Regions from separate parts of the Homo sapiens genome. Here region 2 is linked to region 1. Evidence: fine-mapped expression QTL. A gene starts in region 1. The other region holds a variant in brackets. All regions are shown on one strand. Distances are from middle to middle. Region 1 holds the start of ARMH4 (armadillo like helical domain containing 4). Region 2 has its middle 130 kb from the start of SLC35F4.

Region 1 (9,092 bases):
ACAATTTTATAGAGGTCAAGCAGACAGAAATGTTCGTATCAGCAGAGACCCACGTGCCATGTACATGGGACTTGGTACGTGGGAATCAAACTAATGACAATTAGTTACCATACTGAGAAGCATTTCTTCCCAACTGAGTGACAGCCTCTCCAAGGACACCATAATGCTTACATCTGCATTGCCAAGGCTCTTCCCTCTGTGTGGTATTTGAATGGGTATCGTTCACTTCTGGCTCTTGGTGGTTGGTTATCCTGTTCTTTGCTAAACTTGACCAGTTCCTCTGTGACACAAAAACTTTCTACTAACCAGGACCAACTAATTGCCTAAAACTGAGAGGGCTACTAGATGAAATGCAGGATGCCCAGTTAAACTGGAATTTCAGATAAATCACAAATAATGTTTCAGTACTGTCTGTCCCATTCTTTTAATATTTGGGACACACTTTTGCTAAAAATTGTTTGTGGTTTATCTGAAATTCAAATTTAACTGGGAATCATCTATTTTTATTTGCTAAATCTGGCAACCTTAAAACTGCCTTCCTAAGTTTCCTTGCTTATTACCTTGATTGGAGGTTTTTTTGTTTTTGTTTTTGTTTTTTTTTTTTGAGATGGAGTTTCGCTCTTGGCCCAGGCTGGAGTGCAATGGCGCAATCTCAGCTCACCGTGAACTCTGCCTCCCAGGTTCAAGTGATTCTCCTGCTTCAGCCTCCCGAGTAGCTGGGATTACAGGCATGTGCCACCATACCCGGCTAATTTTGTATTTTTAGTAGAGACAGGGTTTCTCCATGTTGATCAGGCTGGTCTCGAACTCCCAACCTCAGGTGATCTGCCCACCTCAGCCTTCCAAAGTTCTGAGATTACAGGTGTGAGCCACCGCACCTGGCCTGATTGGAGTTTTTATTATTCCCAAGCTCTAAACCTCCCCCTCACACCCGCCCCCCGCCACCGCCCCATAGTTTCTTGCTTTACCTGTAAAAGGTTAATAACATTCATTGTATGTGGATTTACTTATTTGGCTTGCACAGTACAACTTTCCTTAACCCACAATTTGTGTGTGTGTGTGTTGAGGGAAGAGAAGAGTAAATCTTATGACCACTGCCATGTATCAACAGCAGATGTTGAGATAAATTGTATAAACCAGAGTTGTTGAAAGCAGTACAAACCATTTTTGGAAGGATACAGGACTAGTATAAATGAGTTCCAATAAGATCACTTTACTTTTACTGCACATCTGAAATAATTTATATTGAGGAAATGGGAGACAGGAATTTTGCTATGAGAGAAGGGTAATTTTGAAGAATGGAAAATTTTGAGTCTAACTCAGGTCTGGAACTAGAATTCTGTACTTGGAACTTAGATTATCATGTGGCTACTGAGTCTCTAAGAAGAGTAGGATGTTAGAAAGGGATACTGAAAAGGAGGCAGGAAGATGTCAAAGAAACTTTGAATGTCTTGGCCGGGCGCGATGGCTCACGCCTGTAATCCCAGCACTTTGGGAGGCCGAGGTGGGTGGATCACGAGGTCAGGAGATCGAGACCATCCTGGCTAACACGGTGAAACCCCGTCTCTACTAAAAATACAAAAAATTAGCCAGGAGTAGGTGGCAGGCGCCTGTGGTCCCAGCTACTTGGGAGGCTGAGGCAGGAGAATGGCGTGAACTCGGGAGGCGGAGCTTGCAGCGAGCTGAGATTGCGCCACTGCACTCCAGCCTGGGCGACACAGCAAGACTCTGTCTCAAAAAAAAAAAAAAAAAAAAAGAAGAAACTTTGAATGTCTCAGATTTGTGTGTAAATGTGAGGAGAACTGGAATTCCTTCCTCTTGCTGTCTCTCTTCTGCCTGGCCATCTGGTTAGAACACCCAGAATTCAGGTTAGTTTTTTTTTAGTACTATTATTTACCTGTATTTGGGTTGAGTAGACTTAATATTGTGGGCTAGCTAGTAGCCCCGCCATACTATATAACATTGTTTTTACAAGAAGATGTGGTCTGAGTTTCAAACAACTGACTTAAAAATAAAATGCTGAAATACAACGTGGTCAGGCTGGGTGTGGCTCATCCACCTGGTGGGTACTGAATCCAGGTAGAAGACCTGGCCACAGTGCAATGTATTGCACTGAATACATACAAAAAGCAGATCTCAGGCCAGGTGTGGTTGCTGACACCTATGATCCCAGCATTTTGGGAGGTCAAGGCAGGCAGATAACTTGAGTGCAGGAGTTCAATACCAGCCTGGACAACATGGCAAAACCTCGTCTCTACAAAAAATTAAAAAAAAAAAAAAGCTTGGTGTGGTGGTATACGCCTGTGCTCCCAGCTACTCAGGAGGCTGAGGTGGGAGGATTGCTTGAGCCTGGGGAGGTCGAGGCTGCAATGAGCAGTGATTGGGCCACTGAATTCCAGCTTGAGTGACAGAGCATGACCCTGTCTAAAAACAAACAAACAAACTTCATAGATTCAATTCAATCCAATCACATTCTGGAAGTACCTTATGTACCCATAATAATGTTTCAGTCAACCACAAACTGCGTATAAAATGATGGTCCCATAAGATCATGATGAAGCTGAAAAGTTTCTATCACTTAGTGACATGGTAGCCATCGGAATATCCTAGCACGATGCAACATAATGCATTACTCTCCTTTGTGTGGTGATGCTGGTGTAAACAAACCTACCATACTGCCGGTCATATAAAATTACAGCACATACAATAATGTACAGTAAATACTTGATAATAATAAATGTCTATGCTACTCTGGCTTATGTGTTTACTGTACTGTACTTTTTATCATTAGATTATACTACTTCTACTTGTATATAAAAATGTTAACTGTAAAACAGCATCAGGCAGGTCCTTCAGGAGGTATTGCAGAAGAAGGCCTTGTTATCACAGGAGATGACTGTTCTATGTGTGTTATAGCCCCTGAAGCAGGACAAGATGTGGAGGTGAAAGATGGTGATAATGATCCTGACTCTTTATGGGCCCAGGCTAATGTGTGTGTTTCTGTTTTGTTTTTTAACCAAAAAGTTTAATTTTTTTTTGAGACAGAGTCTTGCTCTGTTGCCCAGGCTGGAGTGCAGTGGTACGATCTTGGCTCACTGCAACCTCCGCCTCCCAGGTTCAAGCGATCCTGCTGCCTCAGCCCCCCTAATAGCTGGGATTACAGGCACGCACCACCATGTCTGGCTAATTTTTGTATTTTTAGTAGAGACAGGGTTTTGCAATGTTGGCCAGGTTGGTCTCGAACTCCTGACCTCAGGTGATCCACCCGCCTCAGCCTACCAAAGTGCTGATATTACAGACATGACCCACCTGGCCTTTTAAAATTTTGTTTTTTAAATAGAAAAAGGCTTATAGAATAAGGAAATAAAGAAATGAAATATTTTTGAACAGCTGTACAATATGTTTGTGTTTTAAGCTGTGTTATTACAAAAGAGTCAAAAGTTACCCAGCCGTGGTGGCATGTGCCCGTAGTCCCAACTACTGGGGAGGCTGAGGCAGGAGGATTGCTTGAGGTTAGGAGGTCCAGGCTGCAGTGAACTGTGATTGTACCACTGGACTCCAGCCTGGGTGACAGAGTGAGACCCTGTCTCAAAGAAAAAAAGAGTCAAAAGTTAAAAAAAATTTATAAAGTAAAAAATTCAGGTAAGCTATGGTTAATTTATTATTGAAGAAAAAATGTTTATGTCTACAGTACAGCCTAAGTGTACATTGTTTACACTACAGTAGTAGTGTAGCATACAGTTATAGCCTACATAACTACAGTAGTGTAGTTATGTACAATAGTATACAGTTATGTCAGTAGTGTAAGGTTACGTACATTACAGTAGTGTACAGTTATGTCCTAGGTCTTCATATTCTCACTCATCATTCGTTGACTCACCCAGAGCAACTTCCAGTCCTATAAGCTCCATTTATGGTAAGTGCTCTATACAGATGCACCATTTTTTATCTTTTATACTGTATTTTTACTGTATTGTTTCAATGTTTAGATATAGAAATACCATTGTGTTACAATTGCCTACAGTACTGAGTACAGTAACATGCTGTACAGGCTTGTAGCCTAGGAGCAATAGGCTATACCATATAGCCTTGGTACGTAGTAGGCTATGCCATCTAGGTTTGTGTAAGTATACTATTATGCTCGCATAACAACAAAATTGCCTAAGGATACATTTCTTAGAATGTATTCCCCTAATTAATCAATGCATGATTATACATAGATAATAATTTCTAAAGGGAGGGGGAATGGGTAACAGTGCATACCTGCTGGGCACCGTGGCACATGTCTATAATTCAAACACTTCGGTAGACCGAGGCAGGAGGATCGCTTGAGTCCAGGAGTTTGAAACTAGCCAGGGCAAGATAGGAAGACCCCATCTTTACCAATAATAATAATAATAATAATAATAATAATAATAATAATAATAATAAAAAATTAGCCAGTCGTGGTGCCGCATGCCTGTGGTCCCAGCTACTTAGGAGGCTGAGGTGGGTGATGGCTTGAGGTCCCAGGAGGAGGTCGAGGCTGCAGTGAGCCATGATGGCGCCACTGCACTCCAGCCTGGGGGAAAGAGTGAGATCCTGTCTCAAAAACAAACAAACAAACAAACAGAAACCAGTACATACCTGTGCATTGTGTTAGGTGTGGGGGTCAAAGGTGAGCCAGCTTTTGCTCTGACTTCAAGGTGTTTATAATTAACTACAAAAGGGGACTAAGGTATTATGAAGAAGGGAGCTAATAAGCACAATAAGGGACAAATGTGAAGAGTGCTCTGCAAATGTAAAATGCTGCGTTGTGGAGGTTGTTCCAAAACGGGCCTTTAGATTCCGACACCTCTTTCCACACCATTAGAAGTAACAGAAAAAGAAAACAGTCCTTGAGAGGCTCAAGAATGGAGGACACAAATTCCCGGTGGCCACGCGAGCCGGATGACCTTGGAGAAGTTACACAGCCCTTAGCCTTAACCTCCTACCCTGGTAAATGAGAACTACAATATCTACCCTTCTATCGTGCAGATTAAGCAGGTAAAGTAATGGGCAAAGCATCTACTCTTGTGCCTGGCAGGAGTAAGGGCTCAATAAACCTTACTTGTGACTAGCACTAGTTTGCAACTTCTCCGACGGACTGAGAAGGGACATTCTGTGTAGAGTTACTTTAAGGGTCCTACTTAAGGGCACCGCCAAGCCGTCCATAGTTTCCACAAGGAACACTGCAGTCTCAGATTTGCGCTCCTTGCCTGAACCAAAGACAGCAAAATTGAGGTTTTTCTCGTGTAAACGGTGCCCTGGTCTCTTCCGCGTAGATAGGGAGGCGAGCTGCCGCAGAAGCTCCCGCTTAAAGAGGGGAAGCGGAGCACGGGATCTCCGAGGGGTCCCAGGTGCCGGGACTCCAGCAGAAGCCGCCCCCGCGGGAGAGCGGAGGCGGGGAAGTGGGCGCAGGGGGGCGTGGGCGACGGCGTCGGCTGTCAGTGCCAGCAGAGCCAGGGCGGGCACACCTACTCACCGCCCAATCCCCGGCCGTAGCCGCGGCCTTATGAATAAGCAACAAAGCGAAGCGCCCTCCCCCTAGCGTCCCAGACAGCGGAGGGAGTCGCCGCCGCTACCGCCGCCGCCGCCGCAGGGCCCGCCGCTGGGATGCCGAGCGCCCGCGCCGCCGCTGCCTCTGTCCTCCGCGCGCTGCTCAGCTGAAGGCGCACAGGTGAGGACGGGCCCGGCTCCGGCCACTTGGGCGGCCGCGGCTGCAGACGTGGCGCCGGGGCAGGGACGGAACCGGAGCCTCAGTGGCGTGGGGTCGCTCCGCGAGCGTAACAGTCCCGGGAGCGTTGCAGCCCTGGGTGCGCCAGGCGTGCGCCCCGATCCTCCTCCGGAGCGCGGTGCCCAGGTGTGGGGTGCGCGGGGGCAGCTCTGGGCGCGCTGGGCGCGGCGCGCAGGCCTCGGAGGACTCACCGCACTCCTAGCTCCAGCCCAGCCTCCCAGCTCCGCACCAGCGAGCCGGCCTTTGTGCTGGCGGAGCTTGCAGGGCTGGCTGCTTTTGTGTGGGCTTTTCTTTCTCTTTCTCCCTCCGCTCGCAATCCCACAGCAGTGAGAGAGAAGTTCCCGAAAACAACGGTTTACTCCTTTCAAACCGTCGATCGCAGTGTCCCCAATGCCACTCAGAGCCTAACAATCGAGGAGCGAATCGTTGCTGCGGTCACCACCGAAATATGTCCTGCCACTTTGCAGAAAACAAACAGTTGAGTGTTTAGCGCAGAGATGTCGAGCCTCCTTGCTCAGCCCCTGACTCGTCCCCCAGGACGCGGCTGGAGGACGCTCCTTGGAAAGGTCACTTAATTAGAAAGAGGGCCTGCGGGTTAGACCTGGGGGAGGCGAGGCTCTGCTTGAGACTCCGGAATAGTTGGGAGGTGCTGCCGGAGGTGCCCAAATGTCTCATGTGCCTCGTGGTCACTGACAGAATCTGACTTGTGTAGATTCCAAACATGTAGAACCTTGGCTGGCGAGGAGGCAAGCAGGAGTGAACAAAACAGGACCCTTAAGAGTTTGGGTTCTCAAAGATGAGATGATCCCGAGGATCCGCCTAGCACTTGGCATCCAATTTCAGTGCAGAACTGATGTGGAAGAGAGGAGAGATGGCTGCTTTAAAGTGTCTGCCTTCTTTCTTTGGAAGTTTTAGTTTGAAACTTGAGGGGGAGTGGGGAGTGGTTCACAAAACCATCCCTAGGGTTCTGAAGGATCTCTTCTCCAAAGGGCAAAAATTCTTGAGTGGTCAGAATTCACATGCCTTCTCTTTATTTTGGTGTATTTCCTTGATCACAAGTGATGCTGTTGGGCTCCAGGGAGTCTCCTTTTAGCCAAGCATCTACAGTCATTGACTGACTTCGGCACGTATGCCAGTAGAACCCCACAGTAGCATCTATTGAAACACACAACCGGCTAAGGTTTCACAGTATCAGAACATTGCTTCTTTTACACACAGAGGTTTAAAGGTACTCTGACTTGCTCTTATGAATAAAGTGGTTTTTTTTTTGTATTTGTCACAATAATGAACCGAGCACTTGTGCAGCAGACAGATTTGATATTAGTTGAGTTTATTCATAGAAACTCCCAAGGCTCACCAAGTCTAAGGTAGCTACAGCAACGGAGCCAATTAGAGAGATGTGAATTTGTCTTTGTTTTCATGGGAGGCTTCTTACTACATATTCCGGAGTTTCCTGCCAGACCTTTACAATATTATAATTTGGTATTACGGAAATGGTTCGATGCTAAATATAAGTGTAGAATCAAAATGAGGAAAACGGGTTTATCTGCTGTGGAAAATGTCCACTCCCCACCTAAAGGTGTCCTTTGCCCTTTATTCTGTAGATGTTTGTCTGAAAAGTGGTGTATGGAATTGTATTTTTGTTAATTGAACTTAAAAAACTTCTCACATAGGGAAGCTGTCTATGCAGAGGGAAACTGCTTTTAATTTTTGTAAAATGAAAACTCATTCCCTAAGCAAGATGTGAGGTCAATCTTATTTTTCCATATTGTGTTTACTTGGTGATTATAAGAGAAGTATCTGAAGCTAGTTTCAGCTTCCCTTTAAATGTCAGCTACTTAGAGATCTAGCCAAGCAAATGGCTACATTTGTGTACCACAAAAACCAGAAATGATATGTCCAATTGGGTCACTGAAATAAACTGTCTGATGGATGGAGAAGAGTTTGTTGATCAAGATTCATCAGGATAGGATTCTGCAGACAGCAGAACCCTCTCAGGTCACATTGTCTACATGATAAAGCTGAAAGGAGAAGCTCCATGAAAGTACCTTGGGGAAAAAAATGCTACTCCATTTGTGGCTGATGTTACAGATGCTCCAAATTGCTCACATTTCTGTATTTGACAGGAATGCATGTCAGTAGCATGCTAGTATGTCTTCTATTGCATGATAATTTACTTTTGTTTCAAACTGCTTTTATGTCTATTATCACTTTTGTGTGTGTTCTCCACCCTTTGAAAAAATATAACCAGCATTATTATTTCTACTTTGCAACAAGAAAACTTGAGTTTCAGTGATTTGCCTAAGGTAGAACTGGAACTCGAAGAAGCCTGTTTTTAAATCTTCAAGTCCATCTCCTTTTACCAGGGATGAGATGATATGCTAGGGGTGATAAGCACGGATATCTTCATTTGTCTACATCACTAATTTGTAGAGACTGAAGCTCCTGGGCTCAGTATGTAGAACTTAGGTGTGGTCTTCAGGGATGGTAAAGTACTTTTTACTGGTATTTAGTTTCCAGTAATTTAGCTATTTTGACCCCAGCCTACTTACCCTCTTCCCTGCCAGCTCTGGGGCTGCTTTCCTCCTGGGGGACCATGCTTTTCTTTGTGGTTACTTACTCCTTCTCCCTCCTTCCATTGTGATGGAACATGCTGCTGAAAGGATTGTTTGTCATTCAGCTATTTAATTTATGGTGAAGTATAGCTGCAGCCTAGATCCTAAAGCCAATATAACAGACCAGTGATGATTGTCAGTAGCACAGTGAATCAGAAACGTGGTACCTTAATGCCATTTGCCACAGCTGGGTTAATAGAGTGAGAGTCTTTATAAGCTCAGCTTTAAGTAAATACAATAGTATTGGCAATAAAATAGTGTTGGCAGTAACAGCCTTAAGGATTTAAAAAAAGAAAAAGTAAGACAATGATAAATTAATCATTGAGGAATGGTCATGAAAAGGACAAAGTGGAAAGATTGTTAAGACACAAAATGGAAAGATTATTAAGACACAAAGATTATTAAGACACTATCCCCCTCATCAGAGAATCACTAATTGTATTTCAAAAGGTGAGATGGTATTTGGCAAGCATGTTGACTTGACGCTGTGAGACTTGTTACCTGTAACTGTTGGTCTGTTGCGTGTGTGTGTGTGTGTGTGTGTGTGTGTGTGTGTAATAAACTCTGAAACCTTAAAATATAGCAGAAATGAGAACACATAAGTTATTGTTATTGTTAGAGTGACAGTTAAATAAGTAGCCAAAATTGGCTAGGTATTGAATAAAACATACAAGTAGACATGGTTAGACCATGAAATGTCATTAAAAAAATCTTACAGTACA
Region 2 (9,092 bases), 160 kb after region 1:
TAAACTGCCTCAAATACAATTTTCCAGAAACACTTTCTTAAAGTACCTGTATCTCTTAACATAGGTCAAAACTGTATGAAGAAATTTTAAAGCCAAGTTTTAGAACACATTTAAAGTAATTTTTGAAGAGTCAATTAAAAGTGGTTTTTCATTTTATGATTTTTTTCCCCAAATGCTAAGCGTTAAAAGCCAAAACATTTTATATAGGTATCCGAAAATTACATAGAGTGCATGGAGCATACTGAATACCTCGCTCTTCCTTCTGTGTCTGCCTCCAGGTGTCTTCTTCCTGTAGAAGTCCAAATGAAACACCTTATTTCCAATCACAGCCACAACCTGGGGGAGAAGAATCAAATCCTCCACAGGGATTGTGATTTCTGCAGATATGAATAATCCATGTTCCTACCAGCTGCCAAAAAAACAGCTTTTGGAAACAAGATGTACTATTTGGCGCAAGGTTATAGCTACGTGACATTTTGGCAAGACAGGCTTTTTTATGACCACAGAGGAATTTGAAGAGGCAGGAACACAACTGAAAAAAAATCTCTTCCCTTTATGGTATGTGAAGGTGTGGTTTCAAGCAAAGAAATATGGTAGAAGAAGATGGAGGAAAATCATAATGCAAGGCAAATATAAAAATGGCACAAAACATTAGAAAGTGCTGGAGGATGCCAAAGTTCTGAATGGACCAATGCTTGAAAAAATATAGAGAAAAGCAAGGAGAAGAATACAAATGAGGAAGATCATTAACAGGAGAAGGGACCATAAAGCTACACAAATCCATTTTGCCTCCACCTTCTCCATCAAATAATATTATCTCATAGTAGTTAGAATGAACATAGCTGGGGGTGGGGAACTGAAGTCCAAGATGGATGAGGAGGTAAAAGGTGCTTGGTTACTTTAAATGAGCTTAAGCTCAGTTAGATATCTTCTTTAATTGCACAGTCTTCAAATGACTGAATATAAACTTCTAGGAATAGGAAATAATTTGAAAGCAAAATAATGGTACTGACTTAGTAAAAGTCCCACATGTGCACATTTAGCACTCCTAGACTGATAAGCTGAAGATGAGCTGTGGAGAGATGTTGCCCTGATAATTATAGACTGGCAGTTAACATAGCTGGAAACATAATCCTGTTGCTTAATTTCTGCATGCAGAAAAAAACCCCAGCATTTATTTTGCAAGCCGCTGTAATACAAATGCACTGGGAGTGTCCTATTTGGGGTAATAGGTATATCTAACTCCCTTTTAATTAACCCAAATTTCTACCATGTGCATATAGGATAAAGAGAAGGAAGGAAGGAAGGAAGGAAGGAAGGAAGTAATTAAGGAATTCCCTCAGTAAGTAGCAGCAAAAGCACAAAGAAACAAGTCATTTGCTCCCATGTTCTAGTTTGTGTAAAAGCACAAAAAAATTGATGTAAAAAAACTTACATATTCCACCTAGTAAAGCAAATATCCTACTTTCTCTTTTCAAGAAGCAGCAGGAAAAGATCACTTATGTAAGTGATAACCATCAACAATTTGTAATATAGAGTATAAATTCTTCAGATGGATGTTGCTGAGAGGTGTAACCTTTTGTGGGTTAAGGATGGAGGAACTGAGGAGTAGAAACAGAAGAATTATCTGTGGGGGGAAAATCCTGTTATCTTTTTTCTCAAAGTGTATAGGTATAGGAATGGAGTGCAAGCAAAGTTGCAGGCAAAGTGGGCATCCACTTGGATTATTTTATTACCTTTAAGGTGGGTAGATCATCTGCTCTAGTCTCAAAAGAATAAACCTGGCATCAGTTCAGGAAACTGAGGTTTTTATTAACCAGTGTCATGTCCATCTCAATATTCTCTTCCTAATTAGCAGTCAAATAAAGGAAGGGACCAAAAGCATTTGAATCATTTCTCTAATTTTATGTCTCATGACATGGCCACAGCATTTGTGTAGTTCAGACTTCTTCATGACCAGACAGACTAAAGTAGGAAATTATAAGTAGTCTTCCAAAAAGGAATTTTGATACAAAACCTTCAATGGTCATTTTCCTTTATTTCCCTCTTTATGTAAGAGGTAAAGGAGGAGGAATAGGAAATGGTTTTGTGGTTGAACCAATCGAATCCCAAAGATTTGATTGGTTCTTTGCCGAGGAGGGTGAGGATGGCTAGAGACTCTATCTTCAGCAAACCAAGAACACTTGATATTGCTTCTGACTGAATCAGTATTTATTGAATGCCTTTTATGTGTCAGGTAATATGTTAAGTGTTGGGGGAGCCAAGACACAGTCCATGACTGGAAAGGGCTTATGGATTAGTAGGGAAGACAGAAAATGGGCAATTTCATATCAGAGACACTGGGATCCAGAAAAGGAATATCTAACTGGGTCAAGAAGATCAGGGATGCTTCTCCAGAGCAGGTAACATCAAACCTAAGGCCAGGAGGATGAGTGGGGTTATTCAGATAAAGGGGAGAAGGGGATATGTGATCTAGCCAGAGAAACCCCATGTGCAAAGGCCAGGGGTGAGAGATCAAGTAGTTAGCCTGGCTGGGGTGCTAGGTATTCTAGGGGAGTGAGAGTTGGGGTTGAGGGTAGTATGCTATGTGAAATACGGGGCTGAATGGGAAGGATCCTCTAGGTCCTGTCAAGGAATGAGGACTTTATTTGAGGGCAATTAGAAGTCATGCAAAAATATTATGCTGTGAAGTGTTATGATCAGGCCTGAGTTAATAGGAAGACTGGTTTGGGAAGGTTAAAGTCTGGAGTCAGAGACACCAGTGAAGGTCAAGGTTGATGCAGCAATGTAAGTGAGAGATAATCATGGCCTGGACCAAGGTTGCAGAAATGAACATGGAAGGGGAGAATGGGTTCTGGCGGTGTTCAGCAGGGGTAGACAGTGGGACTTGCAGATTGTTTAGATGGAGAGATGAGGGAAAAGACAACATTTAAAGCTGACTAGGGTCATGGGACTTTTGAGGCTTCTAGATACGATGGTCTAGTGTTCTGCCTTCTGGAGGGGCTGACCCTGTATTATCCCAGCATATCTAGGCCTGAGAAAAATAACCTACAAGCCTGCCAGAAATGTATAGGCAGCATTAATTTTTACAAAGTGTAAATGTGTGGTCATTTTCTGTGACTTCTTTTGTTTACTTTTTTTGAGACAGGGTCTTACTCTGTCACTCAGGCTATAGTGCAATGGTGCAATCATGGCTTACTGCAGCCTCAAACTCTTGGGCTTAAGTGATCCTTCCCCCTTAACTTCCTGAGTAGCTAGGACTACAGATGTGTGTCAGCACTCTCAGCTATTTTTTTTTTTTTTATTTTTTGTAGAGACAGGGTCTCACTATGTTGCCCAGGCTGGTCTCGAACGCCTGGGCTCAAGCTATGCTGCCTCAGCCTCCTGAGCTGTTGGAATTACAGGCATGAGCCACTGCACCTCGCCATTTTCTGTTACTTTTAATAGTAGGTACCAGTGAACTAACTTTGCATTTAATGAAACTTAAATATCTGGGAAAATTCTCCTAATACCTTTAGGGGATTACTTTGGTTGATCCCTAGATATGAGTTACTATCTCAGATCTGTTTGACTGTCTTGATTTGTAAAGGCTAATAGGAGAGTTTCTTATTCTTTGACAAGGGAACAAAGCTCAATATCTTGTTTTTCTTGAAAACAAATCCAAGAAACTTTTTTCTCAGGGCTGGTATGTATGAGGACAACATCTGGTCTTAGATGTGCAGCCTGCAGAATCAAGCAATGCAGCTCTGTGTCCTGGTGCTGAGCAGTTTCTGTGGCCTTTTGACAGTTCTTACGGGCAATCGTCAAGCCACTTACCTTCCTTAGCATATAAAAAATAAAGCAAGTTTCCCATAGTTGCCATATCAGCACAAGGCCAGATTCTGGAGGGCCTCAGGGACAATGATATGCAGAATTGAGAAAATTCAGAAAAACTTAAGAATAATTATCATTCCAGTCCCACCCGAAATGTTAACAATAATAAACATTGGTAACATTTTGGTCTGTACTTTTCTAATCTTTTTTTTCCTATGCATTTATGATATGCAATAAATACTTTTATTTTTATACAAAATCAGGATTATAATTTACATAGTATTTTGTTACCTCTCTGTAGCTATGTTTTCCCATGGTTGTTTTAAGAGGAATAGAAGAAAGGAAAACAGCTTGTGAAAATCCTAAGTTGTATTTGAACGAGCAAGCTGTGTTTCCTCATTAAAACATTTATTTCGCATTTGATGGTCCATAACTGCCCATTTACCTCAGGATGCCTCCATAGGATGAAAATAAGAACAGAGTTGAAAGAAGTCTCCATAAACACAACGCACATTGGCAAATGTCATATTCTTGTTCCTTAAGGGATTAGAGAACACTTTCTTCTCTTTGTCTTTGCCCCCAAAGTAAAAGCTATAAGCTTTTATAATTAAATAATAAGACTGAATAACCATAAGCGCAATTAATATGTAGTATTATGAGAAATACTGGGGAAAAGGACACTTACTGTGTGACTTAAATTGATTAAAGGGTTATTCAGTTCAACTCTCTTGAATCTAATTAGTATTTTTGTGTCATTTATTATTATAGGGCACACATTTTTTACATTTGATTTAACTTGACTAAAATTAAATGAGCAAATGTTTATTGCTATGTCCATTGTTTTCCTTTCTCTGTCA[T/C]TGTTAAAAAGAGGAGCCATGGCTTCTGCTTCTTCTGTGTATTCTCCATTAGACCTTCTTCATCCACCCTCTTCCCCATCCCTTTCAGCTCTGAAGGGTCTATAAATGAAAGTGGGTACCAACTGATTCAATAGGACTTATATCTTACTAAATAACGTTTTATTGTCTTTGTTCTATGTATTTGCAGAGAAATTGTAAGTATCTTTAAAACCAATTAACAAAGCCCTGTGGGTCTTTCAATCAAGACCTTTGTAAACATCTCTACTAGCCCATACTCCCCCAAACTTCTTGCACATGGTAGAAGATGACATTAAATAAAGCACATTATAAGGTGCAATGAGCTTTATTCTAAAAATATTGTCTGGATGTGAAAGTAAGTTCTTGTTCATAAAATGTTATTAGTAAAATGTTATTAGATTAAAATTATGGAGTAAGCATTTGGCAAACTGATTGACTCTTCACTGGAAAGACCAGGCTTTTTAGCACACATTTCTGTTCATGCTTAAGGTCAGAAGTCAATCAAAGGCAACCAGAAAAAAAAAAGGCAAATAAATGAATTAGGGACATAATTATTTTCTGTTATAAATAATCAGGATCTTTTCAAGTTTAATTATGGGGAGTTGTTGAATAGGCTAGTTTTATGCCATGCAAATAAAATGTGAATTTCAAAAATCTTAGTGAAACTCAAATTTATTTTTACTTAGCGATAATAAAATCACAAATACTTCTTGAGCTCTTGCTGTAGGCCAAGTGCTGTGCTCAGTACTTAACATGGATAAACTCGATTGAGTATCACAATTCAAAGAGGTAGGCACTCCAGGTTACCCTTGACTCTGCTGATGGCAGAAACCTCACTTGTAATAAATAATTATCTTTGACAAGAGAAACATAAAACAAGACCTGTAATAAATGATTTGTTCACAGATTTTTCATGTCATAGAAACTATATAGCATTGATTTTTAGCTATGATTTTGATTCAGTTTTTAAAGTATTTAATTTTTATTATATCAGCCCACACTGAACATTGGTTTTTCAGCAGATAATGCATCTTCCAAGTGCTCCAAGGCGAAGAGCCGCAGAGAAGAATACTGCATCTTGAGTCATACCCTGAAATTACTGAATGAATTACCTGTGGCCATGTAAACACTCTGCTTCAGTAGGTAGAGTGCAACAGACAATCCAATCATTCAGAACTAAGTTTTTAGTTAGCTTCTGTTATTCACTGAAGTAGTTTGCAATTACAGTTGTCTCTAGGTATCCATGGGGGATTGGTTCCAGAACTCCCTGCTGATAACAAAATTCATGGATGCTCAAGCGCCTTACATAACTTGGTGTAGTATTTGCGAATAACCTATGCACATCCTCAAGTATACTTTATATCATCTCTAAACATATAATACTTAATATGTAAATGCTATGTAATTAGTTGTTATTACTGTATTTAGTGAATAATGACAAGAAAAAAAAGTGTGTACCTGTTTAGTACAGACACTACTCTGTACTGATTTTTTTTTCTGAGTATTTTCCATCCAGGGTTGGTTGAATCCACAGATGTGTAACTCACAAATATGAAGGGCTGACGGTACCTAGTAGTTAATTCAGATTTATCGCAGTGATCTAAAGTAATTTTGCAGTTTACAAGCATTTTTTTTTGGTTCTAAAAGAAAAAAACAAAACGAATATTGGTGATGTGATATTTATGTAATGTGATGATATTATAATGGCCACGTTTTAAAACTTGAGAATGTCCTAAGTTCACACACTGTTGGTTTCTAGATCCACAAGGCTTCTGTATACAGTTCACGGTCCTCGGCATTGCTTCTTGTAATTTTTCCATCCCAAAGGAGAGCTACTGTACTGACTGTACTTGTGGAATGCAGCGCTTCATTAAATTAAGTTTATTAAAATGCAATGTGTGGCACAAGACCTGTTCCTTGTTTAAAGATTTAGTAGAAGGTGGTTTCTTTGGATGCACTCTTCATTTATTTCAATGAACGCAAAATGCATTGTATCAAGAGACGTTTCTGCAAAGGGCAGTAAAAAATAAGAAAAACAACCATGAAGAAGAAAACAACTATGAATAAACCAATTCTATGGGGGATTGTTTTTGTGCTTCTCAAAGTGTGTGTGTGTGTGTGTGTGTGTGTGTGTGTGTTGGAAGGTGGGTAGAAGGTGGGGGGGATGGGTGTCTGTGTATGAGAGAGAGAGAAAGAGAGAGAGCGAGTGCACTAAGTGAATATATCCTTATGGTCTAAACTGGGATACAATTGAGAGTGAAAGGGGCACAGCTGGGTGCGCTGGCTCACATGGATCACTTGAGTCCAGGAGTTTGAGTCCAGCCTGGGCAATGTAGGGAGACCCTGTGTCTACCAAAAATTAAAAATTAGCCAGATGTGGTGATGTGCCTCTGTGGACCCAGATACTTGGGAGGTTAAGATGGGATGATCACTTGAGCCTGGGAGGTCAAGGCTGCAGTGAGCCATGATCATGCCACTGCACTCCAGCCTGGGTGATGGAATGAGACCTTATCTCAAAAACAAAAAAGTGGGGACACTGTTAATTACAATGGGATAACAGGCATAAACTGGAATGATCCTGGGAAAATAGGAACCTAAGGGACATCTTAGAGGGAGTGTATCAGACACCTCTTAGAGGAAGTGTAACAGACACTTCAAATCCTATCTTTTATTCCAGTCACCTAAGTAGCATTTAGTTTGGCACAGGCTTCCACCAGTTTGCCAGGGTGTGGGTTATTGTGGGGTTTCACTTGTCACTCACACATGTACAACCTGGAAATGTTAGGGGGGCTAACCTGGTGGGCCTTAACGAATGAGGATGGAAACTGATGGATAAATCCTCCCACCATTTGTTGCTCATGTGGCCGGTTCTCAGATACGTTTCATGAGGCTTCTCAGAATAGTCCTTAGGATTGAGCACTGGTTGTCCATTGCAATGCTACCTTGAAAATTCATCCTTGTATTGGCCTTCTCTCTTTCCTTGTTTCACTGCTACTTGCATGCAAGACTTTGTCTGAGGTCCTGCTTTCAGGGGAACTCAGGCTACAATAATTGGGATTTTGGAGTGAGATCACTCACTGTTCAGAGGTAATAAGGACTCCATTTTTGGAGGTGGGTGGAGTGGTGGTATCTGGCCAGCGCCATCTCAGTTACTAAGACTCTTACTGAGGTGGATTGGGATGAGGTGCAGGCAGAGGCAGAGCATTGGGTGGTGTGATAGCCGTGGTCCTTAAATAGTACAGGAGCAATGGTAATAACAAGGATTGAGCTGGCTGGTGTGTTTAGACTGCTTTGGAGGCTTTGAAAAAAGCAAATGAAGAAAATGACAGGCTCAGGTTTGTTAATTAGCAACATAAGGCATGTCATGAAAGCCAGAGGATCTGTATGGAAGTGTATCAGGAGACTCACATTGGTGGATTGTGCTGTCATTCTCACACTCAAGGTCACCCTCCAAGCAAGCAATCTAGATCAGGCAAGATGTTAATGAGCCTACATCAGGCAAGGGTGAGAAAAGTCTAAAGTGGATAGTGGAGGAGGGAGATGAAGAATATTATGATCTTGGGATCAGCTGGAACAGTAGAACTGGAACTTGTTCCACTAACCCTCTTGAATTAAGTCTTTGCAGAGACTATGGCTGGCCACCACCATGAAAGGGATTCTCTGATAGACTGAATTTAAAGAAGGGCACAAAAAACAAGCACAAGAAATGGATTGTACCTCCCTGTACACCACTCCAGATCCTCTTGCTCATGCCACTATTGTGTTTACCAGGTCTGTGCAGGTGTCAATCAGCTTTTGCATGGGTGCAGCCTGATAGAGACTAGCCTTGTGCTGTGGCTTTCTCACTTCTCTGACGCTGGACTGTCCTGACACCATGCCTTGGGAAGCACGTCAATACTAAGGCATGCACAGTTCAGAAGTACGAGGGAGTTGATATCTGTGAGGCCACCCTTGTCCATCAAGGGGGATGAGGATTGATGAATAACTGCTCTCTTTTCCTCTTTCAGGCAGACAGTTTTGAGTTGCGATTTATCAAGTTTCTCAGAAATCCTGTTGGAGCCAGTCACTTGTAACAGTGGCCACCTTGATAATGCATCCTCACTAATCCTTTCCCTCCTTCACTGTTCCCAGCTCCATCCTATACTCCTGGTCCCTGAGATCACATTTCCAAACAAACTACTGTGTTTAAGCTTTTGTCTCAGGTTCTGTTTTTGGGAGAATACAAACTAAGATAGACAGAGAGAGAGAGAGAAGAAGACAGGCTAGGCTAGGGTACAAAGCAAGGGAAGAAACTGTGATCTGGTATTAAAGTGCAGGGATATTTTGGGACATCAGAGCTTAATTTAGTACTATGATATTTCTAATAATGAAGTGACACATTTAGGCCACATGCTTCCTTGTTAG

The links. PIP is the estimated chance that this variant, and not a neighbour inherited with it, causes the effect.
Region 2: its variant is fine-mapped to the expression of ARMH4 in esophagus muscle (GTEx, PIP 0.93).

Annotation. Positions count from the first base shown.
Region 1 is chr14:58,148,681-58,157,772 of GRCh38, reverse strand. ARMH4 (armadillo like helical domain containing 4) reads left to right here and starts at 5,560. Exons shown (of 8, transcript NM_001001872.4): 1 at 5,560-5,698. RefSeq lists silencers at 5,366-5,435, 5,328-5,622, 5,516-5,735, 5,836-6,025.
Region 2 is chr14:57,991,036-58,000,127 of GRCh38, reverse strand. No RefSeq gene overlaps it. Among named protein-coding and RNA genes, the nearest start is that of SLC35F4, 130 kb to the right of the region's middle. The variant T/C (reference allele first, on the strand shown) is at 4,671.